Linked DNA regions of Homo sapiens: region 2 is linked to region 1. The links come from fine-mapping of genetic effects on gene expression. A gene starts in region 1. The other region holds a variant in brackets. All regions are shown on one strand. Distances are from middle to middle.

The links.
Region 2: its variant is fine-mapped to the expression of POLA1 in substantia nigra (GTEx, PIP above 0.99).

The regions. Positions count from the first base shown.
Region 1 is chrX:24,690,678-24,696,057 of GRCh38, forward strand. POLA1 (DNA polymerase alpha 1, catalytic subunit) reads left to right here and starts at 3,241. Exons shown (of 37, transcript NM_001330360.2): 1 at 3,241-3,327. The coding sequence starts at 3,285. RefSeq lists enhancers at 1,210-1,710, 3,413-3,502 and a silencer at 3,063-3,222.
Region 2 is chrX:24,994,032-24,999,411 of GRCh38, forward strand. POLA1 (DNA polymerase alpha 1, catalytic subunit) reads left to right here. Exons shown (of 37, transcript NM_001330360.2): 37 at 1,774-2,955. The coding sequence ends at 1,919. Among named protein-coding and RNA genes, the nearest start is that of ARX, 19 kb to the right of the region's middle. RefSeq lists enhancers at 4,919-5,380, 5,024-5,380. The variant A/G (reference allele first, on the strand shown) is at 2,636.

The DNA of each region.
Region 1 (5,380 bases):
TATGCCTTCGGATACTTGTAGCTTAGTTCCCACTTACGAGTAACACACAATGTTTGGCTTTCCATTCCTGAGTTACTTCACTTAGAATAATGGTCTCCAATTCCATCCAGGTTGCTGCGAATGTCTTTATTTCATTCCTTTTTACTGCTGAGTAGTATTCCATGGTGTGTGTGTGTGTGTGTGTGTGTGTGTGTGTGTGTGTGAGATATATACACACACACATATGTATATATACACATATCTCACTTTTTTTAACCTACTTGTTGATTAATGGGCATTTGGGCTGGTTCCATATATTTGCAATTATAAATTGTGCTGCTGTAAACATGCGCGTGCAAGTATCTATCATGTATAATGACTTCTTTTCCTCTGGGTAGATACCCAGGAGTGGGATTGCTGGATCAAATGGTAGATCTACAAAAGTAAGATATTTTAGCTGCAATCAGATATGACTACTTTCCACTTGGTGGTTTGCTGGTAAACCTTAAAAAAATAAAAAGCTCTGATTTGTACCACTTGCCAATTTCCAGGGTGTAAATATTCCCACCATGACTGATTTCAAGCTACCAACAGTTTAACATGGAGATTACAAAATACTGGAATATTTAACAATCAGCTCTTGAGAACCTCCAACTGTCCCTCTGATACACTTCGCTTCTTGCATAGTAGCAGTGAAATAGGCATAGGCATTTTGGGATTCCACTATGGGGAAATGGAGTTGATATTGCATTTAGTTTGGGCTTATTTCTTCTATTTATGTGGGTCGAAGGCACTTAACCCACATATATACTTAAGCCATATATACTTAAGTTATTGATAGACTTTTTTTTTTTTTTGAGACAGAGTCTCACTCTGTCACCCAGGCTGGAGTGCACTGGCACAATCTCGGCTCACTGCAACCTCTGCCTCCCGGGTTCAAGCTATTCTTCTGCCTCAGCCTCCCAAGTAGCTGGGACTACAGGCGCCTGTCACCACACCCGGCTAATTTTTGTATTTTTGGTAGAGATGGGGTTTCATCATATTGGTCAGGTTGGTCTTGAACTCCTGACCTCATGATCTGTCAGCTTCGGCCTGCCAAAGTGCTGGGATTACTGGCGTGAGCCACAGCGCCGGGCTGTTATTCATAGACTTCTTGGTGTAGGAATAGCTTCCAGGAATATTTCTACCCCAGTGTGATGACTTACCAGGAGTTTTGAACTGAAAGTGTAGGGCCAGAAGACATATCATGGTATGAAAGTGTCTGGCCTGGCATGGTGGCTCACACCTGTAATCCCAGCACTTTGGGAGGCTGAGATGAGTGGATCACCTGAGGTCAGGAGTTCAAGACCAGCCTGGACAACATGGTGAAACCCCATCTCTACTAAAAATACAAAAATTAGCCAGGTGTGGTGGCGGGCGCCTGTAATCCCAGCTACTCGGGAGGCTGAGGCAGTAGAGTCGCTTGAACCTGGGAGGTGGAGGTTGCAGTGAGCCGAGATGGTGCCACTGCATTCCAGCCTGGATGACAGAGCGAGACTCCATCTCAAAAAGAGAAAGTGTCCTACAGGTCTTTTCCCACAAAGTATGTGGGTCATTGTCTCAGTCTGTTCAGGCTGCTATAACAAAATACCACAAACTGGGTGGCTAATAAACAACAGGAATTTATTTTTCACAGTGCTGTAGGCTGGGAATTCCAAGATCAAGGTGCCGGCAGATTCAGTGTTTGGGGTAGGCCCACTTTTTGGTCCATAGATGGTGCCTTATTGCTCTGTTCTCACATGGAAGAAGGGGCAAGGCAGCTCTCTGGAGCCTCTTTTCCGAGGGCACTAATCCTATTCATGAGGGAGGGTTCCTGCTGATGACCTAATCACCTCCCAGAGGCCCTACCTCCTAACACCACCACACTGGTGATTAGGTTTCAACGCATACATTTTATGTGGAGAGAAACATTCAGACCACAGCAGTAGTGAAAGAGAAAAGAGGTTTGAAATGCCTAGAGTTATACCCGGGCATGTGGGAAGTAATCAGCTGTGAAATTGTTAAGGTAAGGATTTGGTTCTTATTAATGACTAGCCAACATGGTTCTCTCCTGGTTGGAAAAAGCTTGATAATAAAACTATAAAACTTCCATCAGTTTTTAAAAGGGAAGTGTAGGAATAAATCTGTCGTAGTACTTTAAATAGGAAGTTATGTCTAAGTGTAAATTACTACATGTTATGTATCACAACATATGGATCACATAACATGATATTAAATGATTATGAAGCTGAAAGACATTTTCTAAACAATCAGAAATTAAGAAACAAGTATTGATCAACCATGCTAGAAGACAGATTGAATTATCTTTATATCCTCTTTGGAGAAAATATTACAAAATTGTTGTCACATGAAGAAGGGATCAATAAGCATGTGGGCAATAATGTAGGAAAAAATACAAATGTGTGGCAGGCATTATTTAATAAAAATGTTATACCTTTTTGGAAAGAGATAACATGAGATGTACACATTACAGCCATTGTATCATACACAAAAATTGAATACCCTTTTTGTTTTTCATAACATTGAAATTTTGGAGTTCACGTCAGGTGTTTTGTAGATTGTCCTACATTTTGAATACATCTGATTGTTTCTTCATGGTTAGATTCAGGTTAGACATTTTTTGCAAGAAGACCATATAGGCGAAGTTTTTCCTTTTTCATACGCATTACATCAGGAGGCATATGAGATCAGATGGCCATTTATTGGTAATGCTACTTCTGGTTATTTGGTTAAGACGGAGCATATATCTTTAAGTTGTTAATCACACAGCCACTGTATCCAGACTGCTGAGAAGCAAACTATCAGGCAAAATTCAGGGCGCGCAGCAGGAGGCAGTCGCTTTCCCGGCTCTGGGGAAAACGATCCAACCACGCCCACTCTCCTGCCCGCCCGCGCCTCCTTTCCGGGAAAATGGGCTCTGAGAACCAGAGCGCCCTTTCTCCCACGCGCCCAAATCTTTTCCCATCAGCATGCGTGCGCTTGCGCAGTCTCCAGGCGGCTCCTTTCCAGCGCCCGACCGCTTCTTTCTCCTGCTCTCCTCCGGCTTCCCCTCAGCTCTAGCTTTTCCCTAAGGGGTCATCACAGGGCGCCAAACGCGCGTCCGCGGGAAGGCCGGGGGCGGAGCGCGGCGCGGCGCGGCACGTCAGTGGCCTTCCGGCCGGAAGTCCGCAGCCTCCCGAGCCGCTGATTGGCTTTCAGGCTGGCGCCTGTCTCGGCCCCCGCGCCAGTTTTGGGCTGGTTGGCGCGGAATCGGGAGATTCGGGACCATGGCACCTGTGCACGGCGACGACTGTGAGATAGGGGCGAGTGGTGAGGGACAATTCCGCGCGCGGGGCTCCGGGTTGGGACAGTGGCATGATTGCCGGTGGTGGGGGTTCTGAGGGAGGCGCACACCCGGGTTTGTTTGGGCGCAGACCTTGGTCGTCCCCGGCGGGGGCCCTTCTGGCGTCGGACCGGGCTTCCTTTAGGCGCGGTTTGCTCTTGGAGGACCAGAGCCTGGAGGGATTTTTGTTTGGGAGGCTGTCTCACCTCTGCCACTGAGAGTCTCCACAGTCGATTGCGTTTCTATTTCTTTTGGTGAGTTGCACCCACGTGCTGGGTATAACTTTATTGAGACTGGCCCCGTGGGGCCGAAAGTATTTCACTGCGATCTCCCTAAGTATCCACTTGAAGGCTTGAACAGAACAGATCTGTGTCCCTTTTTGTAGGAACTTCCAGGAAAATTTTATACATTGTAACTAAGCAGGAAAGAAAGCTCTAAGTGCTGTCATCGGGGAATAACGCGTTTTGTATTTTTAGGTAATGGGTTTCTACTTTATGCATTAACAATTTTTCTTTCAGATTCTTTGGAAAGTTCTTCAAGTGCTGCGTAGAAATCCTGTTCACAATCTAGTCATTCCTGGTGAAGTTTCAAAAAAATGGCATCAATTTAGGGCATTTCGGATCCCCTGTATATCACTCCGTTTGTCAGGGGTGTCTTTTATTTCCAAAAATAGAATACAAAAATGCAAATAGATTTGTCTGATTTTTTAAGTGTTCAACTAAAGCGTGACTTCAGTTAACTTCTAACTTAAAATCAGATGCTTCACTTTGTTAGCTCAAGCGTCACCTCTCCTGTCATTCAGATACATCACCATTAATGAGAACTCGCTTCCTAATCAGCTTCCTTTGCATTCACCTAGTTGTGAGTCACAGATTTCAATTTGTTCTAGCCGTTCGTTTTTTAAGACTATTTTGGAGAGTCGACCTGCCTGGATTACAGATAGGATGTTGGGTGTAAGTATGTGAACGAACAGTCTTTGCAGGCCTCTATCAGTGATTTGCCACTAAGCCCTTTCTTCATCCTAAAAACTACGTCATCTATGAACATCAGGAAATCACTTTGGAGGATACTGTGCAATCTTGAGACTCCTCTTAGGTCATGGTGTTCATTAAGTAGTTGCTGGGGACTTGTGACTGGAATTTTTCCTTTAGAGCAGACTGAAGGATTGTTACCTGAAAGACTGCTGTAAGCTAGTGTCTGTCTGCTTTTGGGGAGGATAGAGATACTCCAGATGGTAATTTTGAAACAAATATTTAAACCTTTGTAGCTGGATTTTTTTCATGCTTATTCTTTTTTTGCTAAGTTACCTACGTGAAGCATTGGAGACATACTCCAAAAAACAAAATGTAGGCTTTTTTTTTTCTTCAGTATTAGCAGGCAGGGCACCTTGATAATGGCAGTGAAAAGTTGAAAGGTCTGTAACTAGCTGTTACTATATATGAAAAAAGATCAGGGAATTTTTATTTATTTATTTATTTTTGAGACAAAGCTTCCCTCTTGTTGCCCAGACTGGAGTGCAGTGACGTGATCTCAGCTGGCTGCAACCTCTGCCTCCTGGGTTCAAGCAGTTCTGCCTCAGCCTCCCGAGTTGCTGGGATTACAGGTGCCCACCACCACACCGGCTAATTTTTTGTATTTTCAGTAGAGACAGGGTTTCACCATGTTGGCCAGGCTGGTCTTGAACTCCTGATGTCAGGTGATCCACCTGTCTCTTCCTCCCAAAGTGATGAGATTACAGGCATGAGCCACTGCGCCCGGCCAGGGAAAGTTTAATGATCAAAAAAGCAGGTACAGTGGTTCATTCATTGGTTCATTCAGCAAATATTTATTATATACCTACTAGGTATAAGCCTTCTGCCAGGCTCTGGCATTATGATGGTGGGTAGGCTGGACATGGTTTGTCTTCATGAAGTACAGATGGTAAACATCTAATCATATGCAGAAAACGGCTTTGCTTTGTTTTTGCCTTCTAAAGCTAGACCTTGGTACTCTTAGGTATGGTGTGTGTGGGGTATGTGGATGTGTGTTTGACTTCACACG
Region 2 (5,380 bases), 300 kb after region 1:
TTACCGCAGCTCTTTAAATGTGCTCTCCCCAGTCATCAGATGCATTTGTGTCATTCACATGCACGGGGTTGCTGGCCTGTGGCTCTGGCCTGCCGGGAGGCAGCCGACACTGGTTGGGGCCATTGTTGTTTATTCCCAGACTCAGATCATTAGAACTTTCAAATTGTCTTTCTGTTGCAGCCCCCCTCTCTTTTTCCACCCCTTTTGGGCATTTTAATTCTCTATAAAACCTGTGGTTGTTCTTTAAAGGACAACTTATGTAATTCAGAAAAGGTTGTGGAGAGCAAATGCGAATGTATAGCCAAGAAACAAAAATCTGGAGTCTGAGTTTTCGTTTTCCGGGTGTTTTGTAGACTTCCCGTGTTGCTGTTGTTGGAGGTTTGCTTTCTGTGAGTGGCGCGCTCTCCCCTCCGTGTTTCCTTCCTGACCGGTTCCTATCGGGAGGTGCTGGGCAGCCTTGCTGCTCCCAGGCCCTTTGGCACAGGCCAGCATCTTATGGGGGCGGAGGCCTCACCTCAGGATCAGCTGATGTCTGAGGCCTGCAAATTTCTATGTGGGAGTAGTGATGTAGTGGCAGGGGGAGTGGGCAGAAGTGAGCCTCTCCTCAGGTGCGGGCTGGGGGTTCTGGCTACCTGGGTTTGCGTGTCTACAACTCTGATTACCTGCTGTGTAACCTTGGGTAAGTGACTTAACCTCCCAGTTTCCTCAGCCATCAAATGGGGATTGGGGGTGGGGGGGGCGCGGGGAAAGCAGCCTCTCCAGACACCTTACCAGGTTCCTGAACACAGCGTCATCCCCCACGTGATCACTCTCTTCACCCAAAAGATCAGACCTGAGCATCACAGCCCCACTGCTCCTTTAAAAGAACAACATGTAGGGCCGGGCGCAGTGGCTCACGCCTGGAATCCCAGCACTTTGGGAGGCCAAGGCAGGAGAATCACTTGAACCCGGGAGGCGGAGGTTGCGGTGAGCCGAGATCGCGCCACTGCACTCCAGACTGGGCAACAAGAGCAAACCTCTGTCTCAAAAAAAAAAAAAGAAAGAAAAAAAACAACATGTAGAAGTAGCAGGCTCTGGGAAGGGAAAGGAGAGGGGTCTTTTCTCTGGCTGGTAGCATCCTGCTCAGAAGGGAAAGGCCAGGGATGAATGGGTTAAAGGAGCAGGAGTGCCGCATACCCTGAGTTCACACAGTGTGGACAAAGAAGAGCAAAGAAATCTTGGCCATGGACAGACAGGTGCCCTCGGGGCCGCTCACCTCTCGCCTCTTTCAGCAAAGGAAATTTTGTTTAGCAGAGGGACTTGGGCTGGAGGGACTAGAAAATGCTTACTAGGCCCAGCTGATCTGGGGAGTTGGGGCTGGAAGGCACCAGAGGCCATAGCTCCCTTTGAGACTAGGTGTTTCCTGCCACGTCCAGACTTCGCAAGCAGTTGCATGCATGTGCTCGCAGCGCCGGTGAAAGTGGCGTCTGCGAGTAGAGCTCACCTTGTCTGCTGCACATGAGGGTGCACCTGCAGTTCACATCAGTAGAGGGTGGCCCTGTCCCCCAGTGCACTGAGTCAGCTAGGTGCTGAGAGGCGGACAGACAGGGGAAAGGAAGAAAAGCTTTCACAGAGGAATGGTCGGCGGGGGCTGCATCTGACTGGCCCCAGGGGTAGACCAGAGATAAGATGGTGGAGATACAAATGGAATCAGCATCCCCTTCTCTGGTGGAATACTGAATGTTCTTTAAAGAAACTACCTGAGACTTCTAATCTCTCTCTCTCTCTTTTTAGATAAATTGAAGAAGCAATTTTTTACCCCCAAAGTTCTGCAGGACTACAGAAAACTCAAGAACACAGCAGAGCAATTCTTGTCCCGAAGTGGCTACTCCGAAGTGAATCTGAGCAAACTCTTCGCTGGTTGTGCCGTGAAATCCTAAGGGAATCCCAGGAGTAACCAAGGAGGGGGTAGTTGAAAAATCCCAGCTTCCTCTGTGCCTCCACTCTGGCCCTAAATGCTCCTCCAGCATCTGTTTCTCCCTTGGGACTGTGTCTCATGTTTGTGTGAATGTAGACCAGGAAAGGGGGCTGCAAAAATGTTGAGTCTAATGTTCGTAAGCATCATAGAAATTCCTGTCTTCATATTAAGATGTACTGCTTTAAAACACAACTCCAGAGCCCCTCCCCAAGCTCCCCTCCCCAAGCTCCTGAAGACCCGGTTTCTGAGGGAGGGAAATTGCTACTTGGATTGAGAGTAGCTGGAATGTAAGTGACCCCAGGCTTTGCCTCAGGGCCTTTAGCCTATGTCCCCCCCACATAAAGAGAGCTTCTCAGAGCCTGACTGAAGAGCTGACGTTTTGCTTTTTCATATGCCAATTAAACCCGGTCTAAATCCAAATGCTTCTCCAGCCATCCAGGAGTGGCTGTCCTTTTCAGTCTTGTCTTTTATATAGGTAGCTGAGGGGGAAGATTTAGAAGCCTTGCACTCACTAAATAGATTAAACAGAGCAGGCTTGTTTGTTGAATTGCTCCAAAGTCCAACAGACACACACTGAGCAGGTGTTTTACACTCACATTCCCTTTTTGCCCCTTAAATAGAAAGTGCAGGTAAAGGTTTATACAACAAGAAAGCACATTGAAAATAATTTGATACTCT[A/G]ACAATCCATTAACATGTGTAGGGGTTACGGTGAGGATCACTGTGTTGTATTCAGAAAAACGGGGAGAGGGATGCTTAATTGGCCCTGGCGCTTGCTATTTTTTTCTCATTTCTTCACAATAGGACCGTCTTTGGCAGCAGCAAAATGTATTTCAGTATGGCAGTCTTTCCTCTCTTACATTATTGGTAAGATTATACTAACAAAATGTTTCCCCTTGTACAATTATGCTGTGTTTTTAAAAAACATTGACCTGTGTGTTTTTATAAAAGAAAAAGTATGTTGTGCCTTCTTCTTAAGAATAAAGTTTTCTAAAGGGAAAGCAGTTGTGGTGAATCCTTACCAGGTGCAAAGAGTTGACTAGAGAGGCAGCAAGGAGTAAAATGTGAGTAGAGCCAGTTGCTGTGGCACACACCTGTAGTCCTGGCTACTCGGGAGGTGGAGGCAGGAGGATGGCTTGAGCCCAGGAGTTCAAAGCAGACTGGGCAACATAGTGAGGCCCCCACCTCTAAATACATACACACGTACATACATATACATATACATATACATATACATATACATATACATACACACACACATATATATATATACACACACATATATATACACATATATATATATATGACTAGAGGCCATCCCCTTTTCAAACCTCAGCCCAGTTTCTTCATAGCCACCTCTATCAGAACCCAGCTCAGGAGTGCACAGCATGATATTTGGTCGAATGTTCTGAGAAGCATTCAGAATTTCTGTGACTTTAGGTCATTTAAGAGATGAAGTATGGTTTCTTACGTGCTTTGCTGACTTAGAGAGCCAAGCCAAGAGCCCAGCAGCATCTCTTTTTGAAGAGCAAGGCCTAGGGCTCCTGAGACAAAGGCGCCCCCTAAAAAAGGTCCCCCTAGTGAAGGAATACTGATGGGTTAAGCAGTGGAGATGAAGCTGCCTTTTATGTTGCTTTTTCTTTTTATTTCTCCTCCTCACCTCCCCTCTGGCTCCCATCCCTCTCCTTTCTCCTCCTGCTCTTAGACTGAGATTCTAAGTAGAAACACTGTGGGTTTCGAGCCCTGTCAGTTAATTAACTAACTTGCTACTGTGTAAGCTCTGCAGCCTGTCACAAACTGGAGCACCCAAGGTGCTTCAGGAACTAAGGGATTAATGTGTTTTTATTGCTCCCCTGGTCAACTCTTTCAGTAATTGCTATTCTCACATAAGGTTAGAGAGATGGTTTTCTAAAGTGTGCTTTCTGAAGGGGAGTCATGTTTTCCTTGATTTCTGGGATCTGGGATTATATTAAATATAAATAGTTACCCTGAACTTGGTCATCAGGAAACTCCAAGAGACTCAAGTAACTTCTCACTGGATTGTTTCTTGTCCCTGCCTCTAGATTATAAACACCCTGGGGGCAAGGACCATTTCTCTAGAATGTGAGGCATTTCTAAGTACTGTCCCCGAAAAAAGCTAATGCAGCAGTTGATGTTTTCTTATTGGGATCTGTTAGAACTCTAGGCACCTAAGGATTCCAGAATTTTGTGGAAAGTTGAAACTGCAACTTTAAGAATTCCAGTGAATCTCTGTTAGAAGTTGGGAGTATCACATACTTATTTTTCTCTGAGAGATGTTTCTACTCCTTGATTTGTGTGGTTGATAGTGCACCCAGCAGAACTGATGCGGAAACTTTGCCCATCTTATTTGTAAGGGGAGAGGTGACCTGCAGGTCTCCATGGACTCCGGCACGTGTCCTAAACTCAAATTCTAAAAGTGAATGGATGAAGCAAACCAGGTTCACACTAGAGTGAGTGGCAGGGACTGTGGCAAACAGGAGTGAGCAGGTCCTGTCCAAAGGGGCCAGCAGCTACTCAGTGATGCTGGGAGGGACAGGGCCCAGTATGGCCACATGATCGAGTTTTCAAGAGAAGCCAGGAATCCAAATATTCCACAAAGCTTACTGATTTCTAAACCTTGACAACTAATTTTTTAAAATGAAACTTTAAACTCTGTGTGGGCCAGAGTAAACCTCTGGGCCAAAGTTTATCTGGGCCAGTTGGGAAATTATACCCTAAAAGAACCCTGCTCTTCTCAGAGCCCCCTGCCTCTGGAAAGGGCACTTTTTCTGTTTAATTTAGGAACTAGGATTTTACCTGTAGCAGATACTTGTACACAAGCTTATCTTGGACACAATCTGCTAACCCTCCACTCTTCTACATATAAGGTGCATAGAGGGGGGCCAGAAGTGGAAAATCCCACAGAGTATGCTTGATAAGATTTTAATTTGTCCAGAAAACAGATGGAGTTAATCTTGTGACTGTTGCCCAGGATGTGGGGGTTAATCAAAGTTCCAAGACTGGAATTTGGGAGAAGTTGAAAGGGAATGAATTCACTGCCCCTCACCATCACCCCTTTCTCCAGCCCTTACTACCTCTTACCTCCAACACACACACCATGCTCCTCAATATACTTCTTCAAACATCATTTAAAATTAGTTTGGCGGAAGATGCAACAGTAAGGAAACTCCAAAAACAGATTTTCCTGTTTGTTTTAGGGTTTTAAGAAAAACACCAAGCCCCAGACCCTCTTGTCAGGATGCCCGACCCTTTAATTCGATGCTCCCATCCCAAATTTAAAGCTGCCATTCCCTGCTCCTCACTGTCTCTCTCCCGCCCCCTCTTTCTTCTCTCTCTCTGTCTCTCTCTCTCTTTCTCACCCCCTCTCACCTAAATATTTCTTAATTGAACAGTTTGTGGTGGAGC